Linked DNA regions of Homo sapiens: region 2 is linked to region 1. The links come from fine-mapping of genetic effects on gene expression. Tissue or cell type: whole blood. Region 1 holds a variant in brackets; the other region holds the start of a gene. All regions are shown on one strand. Distances are between the middles of the regions.

Region 1 (8,107 bases):
ACACGATATTCCATGTAATAGATTATGGTTGTATGTAATAACTGAGCTATTTGTCCATTTACCATGCTAGACAATGTTATCAAAGAATCAATACATTTTAAAACACATATATATCATATCTACCTACTTAAGAAAAATAAACACCGATAAAACTCAATTTAAATGCAATAAATATGTATTGGATACAAGGCAACAAATGTGGTGAATATATCTGTTGGATGCTACAAAATAAAGCTTACATAAATGCATCAAGATACTCTTTTTATTAAACTAAGCATTATATGGGTTAAAAATTAACTGAAAATGTAACAGAGAAATTCCACAAGTTCCCAATACTACATTTACCTACCTGTCTACATCTGTGCCCATTTACTCTGCTGTCATTACTGTCTATGTTCCTATACACTTATGCACAAAATCCCATTTCTCATTTTCTAAAGATCTCAGTTCTAGCAATGCTCCCTTCTCTCTCCAGCATAATCAGCTTTACTCCCATTTTGGATCTTTCCCATCAGCATTGAAACACACTTAATTTCTCCCATCTTTAAAGAAAATTTCAGTTTCACCTTTCATTTCCATCTGGCTACTGCCTCATTTTCTGCTTTCGTGCGAAGCAAATCTCTGACAAAATTGTGTATATTTACTGTCACTATTTTCTTATCTCCCATTCTCTCTTGAACCTATTCACAGTATCAGGCTTTTGTCCCTATCAACCAACAAAACTGCTCTTACCGAGGTTGCTAGTGACCTCCATATAGCTACTTCCAGTGGTCAGTTCCCAGTTATCTTATTTGACTATTTGGCAGCATGGGACTCAGTGATTACTTGCTCTTCCCTGAAACACTTGACTCCTACCTCAAGTCCTTTACACTTGCTTCTTTACCACCATCTGGTATTTGTTCAAATATCAAGGCTTTCAGAGAAGCCTTCCTGCCCACCCTATTTAAAATAACAACTCCTCTCCTCCCAGACCAAGTTCCATTTCCTCTCCATGGCAGTTATCACCATCTGACTACAATGTGTTTATCTTTTTAATTTTTCTTCGTTTTTTCTTCAACAAAATTTAAGCTCCATGAGACCAAGGATTTTTGTCTGTTTTGTTCACTAGTATATCACTACTACTGAGTACTCATGGCACATAATGGGTACTCAGTAAACATTTGTTGATTCAATTAATTAACGAGCTTTTAGTATTTAATTACTAGACAATAAATGTCCTTAGTATAACTTTGGAAACTAAATATTTTGATTTTGTCATTATAAAGCTATTGTTGTATTGCTCGTAGGTATGATGACTATGATTATGGAGAAGTTAATCAATTACTTGAAAGAAGCCTGAAGGTTTACATTAAGACAGTGACCTGCTATCCTGAGAGAACTACAAAACGCATGTATGATAGTTACTGGCGGCAGTTCAAACACTCAGAAAAAGTACGTGTTTCAGTATTAAGCATTATACCATAGACAGTTCTTCAGTACAAGAAGTAATAGTTATGAAAAATGACACATGAAAGTATTAATAAATTATAGCCATTGACATGGAAGTGGCATCATCTAGCTATCTGGGGTTTTTTTGCTTGTTTGTTTGCCAGGCTGGAATGCAGTGGCACGATCTCAGCTCACTGCAACCTCCACTTCCCGGGTTCAAGTGATTCTTCTGCCTCACCCTCCCGAGTAGCTGAGATTACAGGTGCCTGCCACCACGCCTGGCTAATTTTTGTATTTTTAGTAGAGGTGGGGTTTCACCATGTTAGTCAGACTGGTCTCAAACTCCTGACCTCAGGTGATCTGCCCACCTCGGCTTCCCAAAGTGCTGGGATTACAGGCAGGAGCCACTGTGCCCAGCAGAAACCGTTGTCTTAATAGGTTAACTTTAGTGGTTAAAGAATCTCGAAATGGATGTGCCTTCTGGGCCAAAATACAATTATACCTAATACAACATTTCAGTATGTCTGATTTTTATTAATAGTTAGAACTGTAGACAGTTTTCCAAATGTGCTTTGAAGATATCAGTACTCAGATCTAGTATTTCTAAGGCTTACGATAAACTTTTATATGCTATATTGAACAAAGCATATAACCAAAATTGGGTTACTAGTCAATAAATCTGAATTAAAAAAATATTTTAAAAACCCAGATAGTGGCTGGGTGCAGTGGCTCCCGCCTGTAATCCTAGCACTTTGGGAGGCCGAGGTGGGGGGATCACCTGAGGTCAGGAGTTCAAAACTAGCCAGGCCAACATGTAGTGAAACCCCATTTCTACTAAAAAATACAAAAATTAGCTGGGCATGGTTGTGCATGCCTGTTGTCCCAGCTACTTGGGAATCTGAGGCAGGAGAATCGCTTGAACCCAGGAGGCAGAGGTTGCAGTGAGCCGAGATCACTCCACTGCACTCCAGCCTGGGCAACAGAGCAAGACTTCATCTCTCGAAAAAAAGACAATAGATTTTTACCCAAACTTGGTAATTTAGTGTTTTGACAGTATAATTCAGGACCTTTGAGCCAAATATACTGTTACATAAAAATATTTATTTGAAAGAAATATATAGGCAACATGAAGTTAGAAAACCTAATAAATGTTAAGGATCTTTATCAACATCATAGTATAAGAGCTGGCCTTAAGTCCTAGGACTTTTAACCTTTAAGTTCAAGAATCTCCTTTATACAACAGTTTCGAAGCTTGAAAGTAAGAAAATCTTTTTAGGAAACATTCGCTAATAAACTGTATGATCTTAGCAGAGAATGTTATGGCTTCAGTACCTAACAGATTTTTTGAAGTCTTAGAGCCACTCACATCAGGTAAATACCCATTTTACATCCAGCATTTCCCCTTGATGGGTCTTTATCCCATATTTATATGTTTGCTCTAGATTTTCTTCCTTTTCTAGATTGTATCTAGAAATTCTCTTTACTCTTCAGGAGAATATATCCAACCACATATCCAACTGGTATAAATATATCAAAAGAATATAATATTAAAACATATTTTTATAGTAAATTTTGAAAACTTGTGGATACCCATTTTAACTTATCAGCCGAGATGTAACCCCGAAAGAAATGTTCTGCAGAATTTTATCTGAAAGACTCTAGGGAAGCTATGTATGTCTAACAAGTATCAAACACTAATCAGAAACTTTAAACATCAGATTTTCACTTTAGTATCTTTTAAGTAAATACTAGGAAAAATTTTTTAAAGCTTTTCACAGGATAAGCATAAACTGTTAAAAAAAAAAATGAGGGCTGATTTTTAGCCATGTAAAATTTTATAACTAGAAAGAAATGTAATTTGTAGGAAAATTATAATTTATAAAAATTAGTTTTATTTTATAACCCAACAGATTGACTTTACAAAAATAACAACTTTAATAAAGTTATCAGAATTTTTTAGATTTTATGGGTTATTTTTACTGCTTGCAGAGCCATTAGACACAGGTTTGAGTGTTGCATCATGAACATGGATAAATATGCCTAGGTGTGTGTGTGTGTGTATATTGCTTATATACACATAAAAAAACCTTTGTGAATGTCTAATAAGATTTTCCAGGTGTTTATAATGGTTACTAAACTGATAACATTTTCACTTCTAGGTTCATGTCAATCTACTTTTAATGGAAGCACGAATGCAAGCTGAACTTCTTTATGCTCTTCGTGCCATAACTCGGCATTTGACCTGAAGTATCACCCAAGGAAAATGTCATACATGTGTAAAGACCTTTCACATAAGATAAACATTGAAGCTATTTGTGATATAGCATCAAAAATTATTCAGTTCTCTAGTGTCAAAGTTTAGCCGTTTGTTTTTTTTTTTTTGTTTTTTGCGGCTGTAATGTGCAATGATGTGTTTTATTTTCCTTGATGCTTAACATTACTAACAATTGCAAAAATAATACTGAGGAGCACTACTTTGCATTGTTTGTAGTTGGAGTTTTGGATACTGATCATAAATCATGAATCTGGCGTATTAATGCTTAACTTCAGCGC[C/T]TTTGGGTTGTGTGTATGTGTATTTTTTCTCCCCCCACCCCGCCCTTTTTTTTTTAAGAATAAGGACAAGTGCTTACAATCTGCTCAAGCAATTGTTTTTCAGATATTGGAATTCAGCAAAGAGTGACCTCTCTGGCCATTCTAAAACTTTAATGTTGTGTCCTAAATCTGGTGGAGGAAAAGCATGCGCTGTTGAACCAAGCTGCTCACTGGACACATATTTGTGTCCCCAGGAGATTATTTGTCAGGCACTGTTTTTTATTTGTTTGTTTGTTCATTTATTGTTGTTTTACTGCTATTGGCGATAACATGAAATGTGATACAGCTATTGCCCATAATTTAATGTGAAATTAATCATGATGAATTCTATAGCATGCTACTGAAATGCCAAATTCAGCTATTTTCTTTCTCTTCTAAAATGGAAGTTTCAGTTTTCCATATCAGATGTATATAAGTGGAATTATAACACAATCCTATCACTGACAGTAATCCTCAGTCACCTTAAATAATCAGTGCTCACAGTGCTGCTTACAGTTCATTTAGTTGGCACATATAAACCTGTACCCACACAAGACTGACCAAAAATTTTCTTTGCACATTTTTCCTTTCTCATAGTTTTTTTCTATATTTCGTTAAGCAAAGGAAGGTTAATATGCCTATTTTTCCTGTTAGGCTTTTAGAAATTATTTTCCATGACTTTTGTTCTTATAATAGGTTAGACAGTTTATTTTTCAAAGGTAAAAATTGTGTTTCTATGCATTAATGTGATTGAACTACAAAAACAGAGTGCAATATGTTCAAAAAATACTCAACTAAACTTTCCCCCTGTCATATCACTGCAAAAGTGTCCTTTTAAACAGAGCCATAAAGAAATTTTTTTCAAATTTCTTTATTGCACAGGCTTTTTTCAGTTTTACCTTTCTGGGATTGAACAATGTTCCTTTCATAATGCCAAAGCATTCCCTTCCCCAGAAAAATCTCCTTGGACAACTGGTTTAAAAACGTTATTAAGTCATAGGGGAGGAATAAGCGGCCAAAAAGTCACATTTTTGCATTGGTTTACGTTGCTTGATTAGACTATCTTCAGAGAGCACATTATGTGTTTATAGCTTTAATTTGTATTATGTCAATGAACCAGTGAAGTGCCTAAAGAGATGCTTACAACTATCCAGTAGGACACAACTGCACTGCTTTTTAAACACTTTTTGGTTAGTTAAGGGTGACTTGAATTGTACACATACATGCTAATTTTTGAAAACTTATCCATTTTTCATAGTAAATAATATAGATAAAATTTTCTGTTAGAGTTCCCGCAAATATTTCATTTTAGACTTACTTGTGATATAAGATTTAACTTTTCTTTTGTGAAAGAATCGTGAACTAGTGTTTCATGAAATCATTTTCCTCTTCCATTTATCATCCTCCTCTGGTACAATATATTGGGTTGCTTTCTTTTAGATTTTGTTCCAGATAGGAAAACAAATATGACTGTATACTTATTAACATAAGGTAGTTCTGCATTTTTGGATTCCAGGATCCTGTTTGAAATCTTCCATGTGAGGAAAAAATTACTAATATTTTTAAAGACAGGGTGGTTTATTTAAAGAGATTATTCAGAGAACTTGTGCCATATCTCGTCTGTTTTATTGCATATGCCATATGTTAACTTTTATTCAATATTACATTATGTAGATATGTAATACAAAGAAAATATTTAGGAGAATGGCAAAACACAAATGGCAACATAAATGTCCATTTGACTTACCTAACTTCACAACTTTCAAGTTGAGGATGTCATTTATTCTTGAATTTGTTTTTTTACTAGATGCTTTCAATTAATAGCCCTATATTTTTGTGCAGGCGAACTGTATAACAGGATAAAAAATGATTTGTATGTATTGAAAAGGAGGAGAAATTCTCACAGAACACCATATGAGCTTTAGACCAAAAGGGGAAACAAGGTTTAAGTAACTAAAATGGCCACTTAGTTTGTGTTTATTTTTTTCCCTGGAAATGTAAGTAGTTGGAGTTTAGGCTATGGAAATATTAGTGCCTTTAATAGATCTCTTTCCTTGCAAAGTTTCTTTTTAGCTCAGCATTGATCTATCTTATCAATAGGAAAATAAGTTGACTTGGAACTATAAACAAAAACAACACCATATATTTATGAACCTCAGTGAACCAGCCTAGAAAAATTGACTTCTGCAGGTGCTAAAGCACCTACTAATACGCAGCATGCACAGCATTTCAGGTTGTGAATACCATTTTACAACGAGTTTGCTGTTAACTCTCTTTATCCAATGCAAACTTGAAATTCTGATGCGGTTTTCCAGGGTGGTATTTTTTCAGAGTATTGAATTTACTATTTAGTAATTTATAGTATAGCTTTTTATATTAAAATGTGATATTTTTAAAAGAGATATCTGGTTCAATTGGTATAATGACGTGATTATGCAATATGCTGATCTACACCTTGCGCTCACATTGTGCCAAACTTAAATGTGCAAGTGTACGTGAGAAAAGCACATGTGAATGTGAATTCTTTAATTCTTTGCTTATTATGTTAAAATTAGTCTTCATAGTCCACTGATGTGTATGCTTGAATAATGTCTATTTACTTTGGAATTTCAAGATTTCCAGCTTCAATGGTAATTTATAATTTCTCAGATCACCTTAAGAAATATTGAGATACTCTCCCACCTGAAAATAATCTGTTCTTTAACCCACCTGACTATGGGAGTAGCCAGGCAGGTGCCTCACTGGCTTCTTCAGACGAGGCTTCCTCAGGTGGATATATGACTATTAGGGGAAAAGAGGCTTTTGAGACAGCTTATTACCTCCTTCCCCTTTTTGAACTAAGTACATTGTCTCAGTCCCAGTATGAATTTGTCCCATTTGGGGTATTTTTAAAATAAAAGATGGCTAACATGGAATCTGGGGCATAGCCTTGGCCTTTAATTATGGTTGTAAGCCCAAATAATGGCAGAGAAACACAGGGCTGTTTTTACAACAGAAAACTCAATATAAGTTTTATATAAGAATCCTATAAAATTTGAACCAGAGCTCCTATTTAGTTGTTATAATGTCTCCTAAAGATCTTAAATGCTTCTAAAAGCTAATTATTATTCCAGAGCAACTTTTTCCTTTTCCCCCTTATAAAGTTTTTTTTTAAATCCAAAATCTTAGATTTCTGTGCCACAGCAAAATAAAATGATCAACAATTAAAGATCTGTACTTAAAATAGTACACCATTTTTAGTGGAGGGAGGGTGCATGCCTATATGATGGTAAGATTCTTTTGAACTCTAAGGACAATTCCTCATGGAAAAAATAAATTTCAGTGCATATTATAAAAATGATTTGCACTGTGTTAGCAAAATAAGGTGTTTTAGGTTGTATTTTAAAGACAATTCTAAATCATTTCTCTGGAAAGCAAGACCTTAAATTCTTCTCTTTAATAGAACTGCTTTTATGCAAAGAGATGGTCTTAACATGGACTAAACAGTACATAACAATAATGTTTGTTATGTAAATAGTATATCACATTTGCTTAGTAGCACAATTCAACAGCAGGCTGAAAGTCGTGGCTCCTCTGCTCAGATTGAGTTTTAAGTTACCTAATTTATGTAATCAGAATCTATTCTAGGTGGCCGTCAACGTAAACTGTGTTTCCCTATTATATCCCTCTGGAGACTGAGAATCAAATTAAATAGTCTTTCTTCAAAGCAGTACTGTAACATGAATGTATTTATCTCAGTCAACAGAACTTATATGCCCACTGTATGTGGAGCTTATTTCAATGCTAATTTGGCTTAGTTAGCAGACCTAGAATCTGCCCAGGTGAGACCTAGAACAAAAATAGCTGGGGTGAAATGGATAAGAGAGGTAGAGGTATATGTCAAGGCAGAGCCCTATGAGGAAGGAAGAGTTTTCAAAGAATATGAGGAACATAGTGCTGAGAGTGTGGCTGCCTTCAGCACCGTACACCTAATCTAGAGAAAATATTTCCCATGTGGGAGGTCCTGTCTGCATTCAGTCCACCCTTTTCTGCCTGCTTCTTCCTCCAAGTGCCTCAACCTCTACATGCTCACTCTCCTCCCCTTCCCTCAGCCCATCTTGGTCTAAGC
Region 2 (8,107 bases), 58 kb before region 1:
GGATTTTTCTGAACAATTCAATTCACATTTATTGGGGTGCTTTTATAAAGAGTGAAACTCATTACTTTCTCCAAAATTTTTTTGAGCACTTCCCTATCAGTTGAGCTAGGAGCCAAGGATACAAAGTAAATGTTACTCTATCCCTGCCTTCAAGGGGTTTGAAGTCTAATGAGAAAACAGGAGTTAAACCTACCATTTCCCTAGTGAGCTTTTTGGTAAAGAAGAGGTATAGAGGGGCACTATGGATGCTTGGACAAGTGCTTGATTCAGGAAGTGTTTCAACAGAAGATATTCACCAGGCAGAAGGAAGAAGGGAAAGGGATTAAGGTAGAGGTAGGTGGAATACTGATGGGCCTTATGCAGAATGATAGCTTTCAAATGATTGCTCTCACCTGTGTTCTTATTCAAATCTTTCCACAAAATATTATAGCAAGTTGCACCATGAGCCTTAAGACATATGTATACCCTTTTACTCAGAAATTCCAGGCCTAGGAATCAGAGATTCTGCCAGAAACTTAAGTATAAGGAAGTTTATTTTGTTATTTACAATCATGAAAAATCTGAAACAACCCACATATTAAACAATAGCATAAGGATTAAGTAAGTTATGGTACATCCAAGCCATGTAATTTTATGGATTCTTTGCTTAAAAAAATTACACTTTAAAAGAATAATTCAAAACAAGCAACATGATTATGAGATAACAGTTTTGAAATGATGTACAATGTTTAATGAAGTATCATCCTAATTTTGTAATAAAAAATTAAAAAGTAGTTCTCAACATTGGTTGTAATTTTCACTCATATCCTACTTTTCTAAAGTTCTTTCTTGTTTTAAACATACCAGACAACAAAAGGGGTGGAGTTTCTCCTTGTTCTATGTGCAATAAAAAGAACTGGCTTTTGTTTCTTTTCCTCTTAAGTGCGATCCTGGGTTTGAAATAAAATTCCCTTTATAATATTCAGGCTGGCCAAGAAAGGAAGGAAGGTCAGGTGAAGAATGGAAGAGAAAGGAGATGTCCAGAAACTGAACATTTCCATGAGAGAGGAGAATAACTATGATGGGAATGAGGGTGTGAGGACAGACCAGAAAGGGTGGTTGCTGTGTTAAGAATAAGGTACTGGCATTGAGTAGTTGAGGGCAGAACATAAACACATACATAATGGTTCACTGTAAGAAATGTCACAATGTAATACATGATTAACTGCCAAATAAATAGCACTACAGACAATACATATTATAATAGTTTGGAGGAATTTGGTGCAGAGAGCCATCATATGGTCAGATACATGTATGTGACCATGTATTATTGAAGATATTCATCTACTAAAATCTTCCTTTAGCGATCTTTGTTAGAGGGTGTTATTGTATAGGACTAGATTCTCTCGGCTTTCCTTTCTGGAGGATTTAGTTACTGAAGAACTTAAAGGAACTCATTTCGAAAGGATTTTAGCTGTCAAGTGAAAAAAGAAAAGAAAAGGTTATAAGAAGAATGTGCTAGAAAACAATATGAATTTAAAATTCTATTTGAGAAAATTCAATCTGCACAAAAATTCACTTCATCCTTCAATTTCTCCTTTCCTTTAAAATGTACTCACATAAAATCTGCTTTAAAAGCCAGAACCAGCCAGGAATATAGCCCAAGAAATTTACCACTAAATGGGGACACATATGTGTTTCTTAGAAAAACTGTGCCTTGCTGACTTTCTCCCTGCATTTCTTGGTTCTCTGCATCGAAGGGCATGTGGTAATTCCCTCCTTTTCTGAATTTACTTGCTTTTACAGTTTCTTCTAACTGAATCTTAAGCACCTTCCCCACACCATTCATTGCTCTTTAGTTATGTATGTCTACACAGCATCAAGCGACCTTTAGCTAACACTGGCTAAATAGATCAACACCTTTACCCAACTACATAACTTAGACCCTTTTGGGGTTTTCTACTCTATTTTGATCTATTTAAACCTGATACTAGCAGATTTCCATTACCTTTGTTTCTTGTGTAGACTTGGTTTATATGTGTTGGTCTCTAAAAAGGGACAGAGAGGAGACAGCTGTTGAGAAATGAGAATGGCAGTTTTAACCGCACAAATTGGTCTAATAGCTTTGATATGCTAAACTTGCTAGCTCCTCCAAGTGTACCTTTCCGATTTTGCATAACACCACCCTGAATCCCTAAGGAAACCAGGGTTGTTGTTTTTTTTTAATTAAAAAGAAAAGAAAGAAATGCAAACCAGTGAAACCGTTCTTTTAAATCATCTCCACATAGATTTCATTCTACGAACTTCAGGCCTTCACAAATCCTGGTACGCTGGAGACCTTTAAAAAGGGAGAAGCCGAGAATACTGATTAGGTTCTAAAAATCGAAAACAGGTGATGTCATAATGCACAGTCCTGTGGCCACGGCCATGGCCGGGTGGGGAGCTGGGCTCCAGTGAGCACAGAGCTCCTTGCCAGTAGGCGATGCAAGTTATCTCTGGGGCCCGGAGGACACGAGTGAGGACCGGGCACCAATCAGGTTCTCGCTCTGCGCCGGCCTTTGTTCTCACTCGGGAGCAGGTTGCGGGCGTCTAGCATCGGGAACCCGCATTCGACTCGGACGCGCATTGCTAGCCCCTTCGGGAGACCTGGCTCCCCTACCCGTCTGTCCCGCCACACTCGGTCAGCCTGCGCTTTCCCCAGTCAAGTCTGCCTTCTCTCCGCAGAACGTGGACGCTAAAACCCTGACTTACCATTTTAAGCTTTAGAAGAGGTAGGTTTGTCCCAATAGTTTTAAACGACAATTTGTTCTCTGAACCTTCCTTTCTGAGCAGGGCGCTGTGCTCTGCATGTATCCGAACAGCTGCCTCAGGAAGGTCTTTTGGGTGAGAAAACAAGCCCCTTTGGCCTTTTAGTGCTGGACAAGTAAATGAACTTACATCTCTAAGATAACTGCTAGAAGGTGCTTCACAAACAAGAGGAAACCGCTAAACCAGAGGTTTTGTGTCTCTCCCCTCAAACTCGATTACTTGCGTAAATATATATATAACTCAGACATTTATCCCCTATCCGCCTCCCAAGCCTCAAGTAACTGAAATCTTTGCAAAACAAGGTTCACAATAAATGATGCGTAAAGTTCTTTGAGATCCCTGGATACAAAGTACTACATAACTGCAGTCTTCTTTACAGCTAAAGTTAGATTTTGGTGGAGAGAAAGCCTAACCACTGCCCTGAAGGAAGGAACATTTAATCCTCCCACTCCCCTCCCCCTTTCTCGAGAGATCAGGAAATATTTAGCTCAATCTTAGACTCTCTAGCGAGCTCTAGCTCCCAACTATTTATCTCATTCTCCTCACCACTTCTGCAGGGACCTAGAGAAGGGGGCGTAGCTTATCTTGGGGGTGGGGCTTGGAGGGCAGTATATTTGCATATGACACACCCTCGTCCTCTTATTGGCAGAGGAGAGCAAACTGTTCCCTGCTACCCTACTACTTAGCTAACCGCCACCTCCCTTCAGTTCCGAGCCTCGGAGATAAACTTAACTTGCCCGGAGATTCAAGGCTTCCTCGGCCCCTGCGATTGGCCGGCGCGACTCCCAGTCGGGCTCTCGTTGCTCATTGGCTGCGGGCTAGCGCCCTGGGGGCGTAGCCGGAGCTGTCCGATTGGCGGGAGGGGCGGTACCGGAGCGTGGAGGTGGTGAAGGTGGTGGGGCGGCGGAGGCGGGGCCGCACTGAGGCGCTGCGGCGGCGGTGGTGGCGGTGGCAGCGGTGGCGGCTGCTCGTCCTAGCCTGGCGGGGGCGGGGGTCTGGAAGATGGGGGCGGGTGGAACAACGGGCCGGTGAGGAGCAGCCGCCGCCGTCTCCGCCGTCGCTGGGGCAGCTGCCGCGGTGGTCGCCTCTGGCAGTGCCGCTAGCTTTCAGGCAGTCGCCTCTCCTCCCGACATCCCGCCTTGAGGAGGCTGAGGCGGAATCGCGGCTGGCGGCGGGGGGACGGACCGGCCCTGCAGTGGCCGCAGTGACAGCCCGGACCCGGCCCTCCGCCCGCTCTCGCCTCGGCGCCCGCAGCCACGATGAACCGGGGCGGCGGCAGCCCGTCGGCCGCCGCCAACTACCTGCTCTGTACCAACTGCCGGAAAGTGCTGCGGAAGGTACGGGTTCGGCCCGGGGTCCTGCCGGCGAGGGTCGCTTCCTGCCGGCCGGGGCTCGGGCGGCTCGTCCCCGGGCGCGCACTGGGGGAGGCTGAGAGGGATCCCCGGGCACCGTCCCTCCGCAGGGACTGAGAAAGGGGGCGTGGGTTGAGGGCAGGAGGGTTTGGACTACTGCGGCTTTTTATTTCCGCCGGGACAGACCCAAGTCTGGAGGGGTTGGGATATTTTTTCTTCCCTTGTTCCTTTTATTTGGTGCCTTTGCTCTCCTTTACGGCTCATTTCCCTACCTTGCTACCCCGGGTCGGCTCCTTGGGCGGAGGGCGGGAGGGATCCGTTCGATCCTCCTCCCTGTGCAGTTTAGCTGTTGATGGAGGTCGGTGTGAAATCAGAGCAGCTGGGTCGGATCCCGAGGAACCTGGCCCCTCTTTGCTGTGGCTAACTCTTGCGAGTGTTGTTTTTGTTTATTCGGTTGCTTCTGCCTTGCGCGCCTTGCTCAACAACCCCCGTTTTCAAATTGTTTGGATGGTAGTCCTGTGTCTGTAGTTCAGTCTCGAAAGGAACCAGTAAAGCATCTTGAACTTTATGCCCATGGGAAATGCAATTCGACCTGGCCAGTTCCTGAGGCTGGGGTTGGGGGAGGAGAAGACTGAGGTGGATGTGGGTTATTCCTCCTTAGCACCCCCCTGCCCCCGTGTTGATCCAGAAAAATGAGGCGCACCATCAGTTTATTGCTGCTTCCTAGAGTGACTGATAGAAAGTTTACTCCAGTATTGTTTAGCTTACTTGGCTTAATCGCCCCGCGGGGAAGGGCGAGAGGGATGGGGAAGGGAATGAAAAAAAGGTCTCTAGACTTTTTGATCAGATTTTAACAGCTGCCCCAAAGTAATATTATAATCAGTTTATTCGTATTCAAACTCTATTTTTACATTTTATTAAGTGGAAACGTTAGGTGAGATGCTTCTGTTTGTTCACTACAAATGAATTAAAATTGCTGAGCTGTGCAAATGCATCGGGACTGAAAGCGGAGATGAATATGGTACCGTTTTTAGTCAACATCTCTAAATACGGTTCACTTTGGGATTGTTCTTTCTACATTTTTTTTTAAAAAAGGAAGAAAGAAAAAAGCACATAAGTAAGCAAGCTCAAATATTTGCGCTCTTTGTCCAAAAACTGTTTTTCTTCCTCTGTGGGTCAGGCCAAGTGCCAATCAAAGTTGTTTTTCAAGCCTCTTTTCCCTGCAGTAGGGCTGCTGCTTTTTTTTTTCTTCCTATTTTATTTGAGAGCGTGAGAGCAAAGGGATTGCAGATTTGAGGTTAATTGAACAGTTAAATATGCCTTAAATTGTGTTTATTGGATATGTTTCTCTTGAAACAGATTTTTATTAAATGTGCATGTTGAGTATGTGCAGTTATTTTTTTCCATAAACTCTAGGATCAAATTACAGTTGATACTTGCTCAGCTCATTGTAGGGTAGCTTGTGAGAAATGTAATGGATCAGAAGTGCAGATCAGCTTAGTTGGATGTTAACTCTTTCACTGCAGGGCCAGATGTCATCTGAACTTAGCTTTCAAAAAAATTTATTTCTTAATTTTTAAATTTATGTTATGTCTTTGACATGAAAAAATGTGTCATTTAAGACATGTTTGATTAAAGTGCAGCCTGGTTAAAATGACAGCAAGTTATGCTTTTTAATTGAATAAGGAAAAAGAGCACTGTATTGACTTTGATAAAAAAATTTTTTAATGGCTCTGGCAATTTGTTAGGCTAATAAAATGTTTGGAGGTAATATTAGGCTTCAAAATGTATTTCATTTTTCTTTTGAGAGAGCTATGGCTATGGATCCATGACACTTTGCTAGCATTTAAGATATTACATCTTTCCTTTAGCTTTTAGGAAACTATTTCTGTTTACCTAGAAAGAACATCCTCATTTCTAGCCATTATTAAAAGAAACGTGGAAAAAGAGTATTCACATTTTCGTATTTTATAATTGCTGAGCACATCTCTGCCAGTATTCCAGTTTTTAGTAACTCCAAGGTATTTAATATTGATTCATGCAGTGGCATGAAATAACTTAATGGAAATAGGATTCTTTGAGCCAGTTATAACATGACTTGGCAACATTTGCAGCTTTTTAAAGAGTGCCACTTTGAAGTGCTCTTAAGAGAATCAGTATGTAGCATTTTAAATGTTTCATCATTCTTAAAATAACAATGAAAAGTTTATTTCTAATAAAGACATGTTTTTCTTGTTGATATAACTCTAAGTTAAAAGTCATCTATAACTCTCAAAATGTGATTCTTAGAGTTTATCTTGTTTTCCATTTAATAAAGTGTTCAGTAATGTAGCCAAGTGAGTCATAGTATTTTGAATGTTTGTTCAGTCTAATTCATAATGGAAGAATGAAACTCATGCTCATCCAGTGTGAATTACTTTTGCTTTTATATTTCTATATAATGATGGAAGAAGGGTCACCTTTATATGGGACAGAAAGTGTTATTCTCTCAGTAGGTGGCTTAATTTGTTGCAGTGTGTTGAATTTTAGGGGAACTTCACAAGGAATGGAATTCACCTTCAAATGAAATAATATGGTTTAACCCAATGCCTGAATATTGAATTATATATTGTATGAGAATTACATTTATTCTTAGAAGTCCGTTTACGGTTTTGATTTAGTATCCTCCAAAATAAAGAGACTTATTAAAATATTGAATGTACCTAATTTGGTAACCTTAGGACAGTAAAAAGAATGGAGAGGTAAACCATATCCATAAATAAATTAACCATCAAAACTATCCTGAAATCCCTAACTCTTAAGTCTAACTTGCTCTATTGTCAATGAGGTAGTTCAGTAAAGTTTTTAATAAAAGAGGAAATGCTTCTATTTATTTTGTAAAGTTAACGAGTTTTTAAGTTTAATCTTTTACTTGAAGAAATTCTAGTGATAACTAGAAGAACATAATCCTTTAATTTGAAAAGTCATGTGTCAAACTGCATTGAGGAAGGTAGGTAATTATCAGTCCACTCATCTTCCAGTAAATAAAAAAGTGGCATATTCCAATGTACTTTGGGTATTGAGCAGTTAGTGCTACTTAAATGAATAGTTTTGTGCTCTTTAGAGGATCTAACATTTAAACTTTTTTAATGTTAAGATAGTTATAGTGATATATCTTTGTATTGTTATTGCACTTTTCACTTTGTTATATGATCATATATTTTGACATCTTTTTGATGGTTTTATAAACAAAGATACTGTCAAAATGAAAAATACTAGATTGAGGACCGGGCATGGTGGCTTACGCCTGTAATCCCAGCACTTTGGGAGGCCAAGGTGGGCAGATCACGAGGTCAAAAGATCGAGACCATCCTGGCCAACATGGTGAAACCCCATATCTACTAAAAATACAAAAATTAGCTGGGCGTGGAATCGTGTGCCTGTAGTCCCAGTTACTCAGGAGGCTGAGGCAGGAGAATCACTTGAACCTGGGAGGCGGAGGTTGTGGTGAGCCAAGGTTGTGGTGAGCCAAGGTCACGCCACTGCACTGCAGCCTGAGCAACAAGAGCAAAACTCTGTCTCAAAAAAAAAGACAAAAAAAAAAAAGAAAAATACTAGATTGAACTATATGAGCCTCATTTTTATAGTCAAAATTGTTAAGTAATAGCAACTTTATATGGTTTAGCCAATAAAATGTATTTGCTCTATCTGTGGACCACTAGTTACATTATGCCTTGGTTAATCAGTTTTCTTGTGTTACATATTTTTGATTGTCAAAGGCAGTTTTTAACTTGATTATCTTAAATATCCTAAGCAGAGATCAAGTAGTTAATTAGTGATGGCAAACCTTTATGCAATGGTTTTCAAACTGCTTCGTATGGACCCTTAAGATTCTTTGGGGTTTTAAAATGCTTGAGTTGCATTAAATTTTTAAGTATGTTTTAACTTATTTTAAAACTGTAATTTAAAAATATGGGTACCCCCAAATA

What was found. PIP is the estimated chance that this variant, and not a neighbour inherited with it, causes the effect.
Region 2: SESN3 starts here. The variant in region 1 is fine-mapped to the expression of SESN3 in whole blood (INTERVAL, PIP above 0.99). The same link has a PIP of 0.9 or more in lung.

What each region holds. Positions count from the first base shown.
Region 1 is chr11:95,168,822-95,176,928 of GRCh38, reverse strand. SESN3 (sestrin 3) reads left to right here. Exons shown (of 10, transcript NM_144665.4): 9 at 1,287-1,431; 10 at 3,588-8,107. The coding sequence ends at 3,674. Among named protein-coding and RNA genes, the nearest start is that of LNCRNA-IUR, 22 kb to the right of the region's middle. The variant C/T (reference allele first, on the strand shown) is at 3,982.
Region 2 is chr11:95,226,800-95,234,906 of GRCh38, reverse strand. SESN3 (sestrin 3) reads left to right here and starts at 3,705. Exons shown (of 10, transcript NM_144665.4): 1 at 3,705-4,124. The coding sequence starts at 4,047. It overlaps LOC100129203 (a long non-coding RNA gene), which reads right to left and starts at 4,721. Exons shown (of 6, transcript NR_110295.2): 1 at 4,412-4,721; 2 at 3,334-3,782; 3 at 2,731-2,855; 4 at 2,233-2,317; 5 at 1,988-2,027; 6 at 503-1,453. RefSeq lists enhancers at 2,047-2,686, 2,687-3,326 and silencers at 3,682-3,831, 3,842-4,151.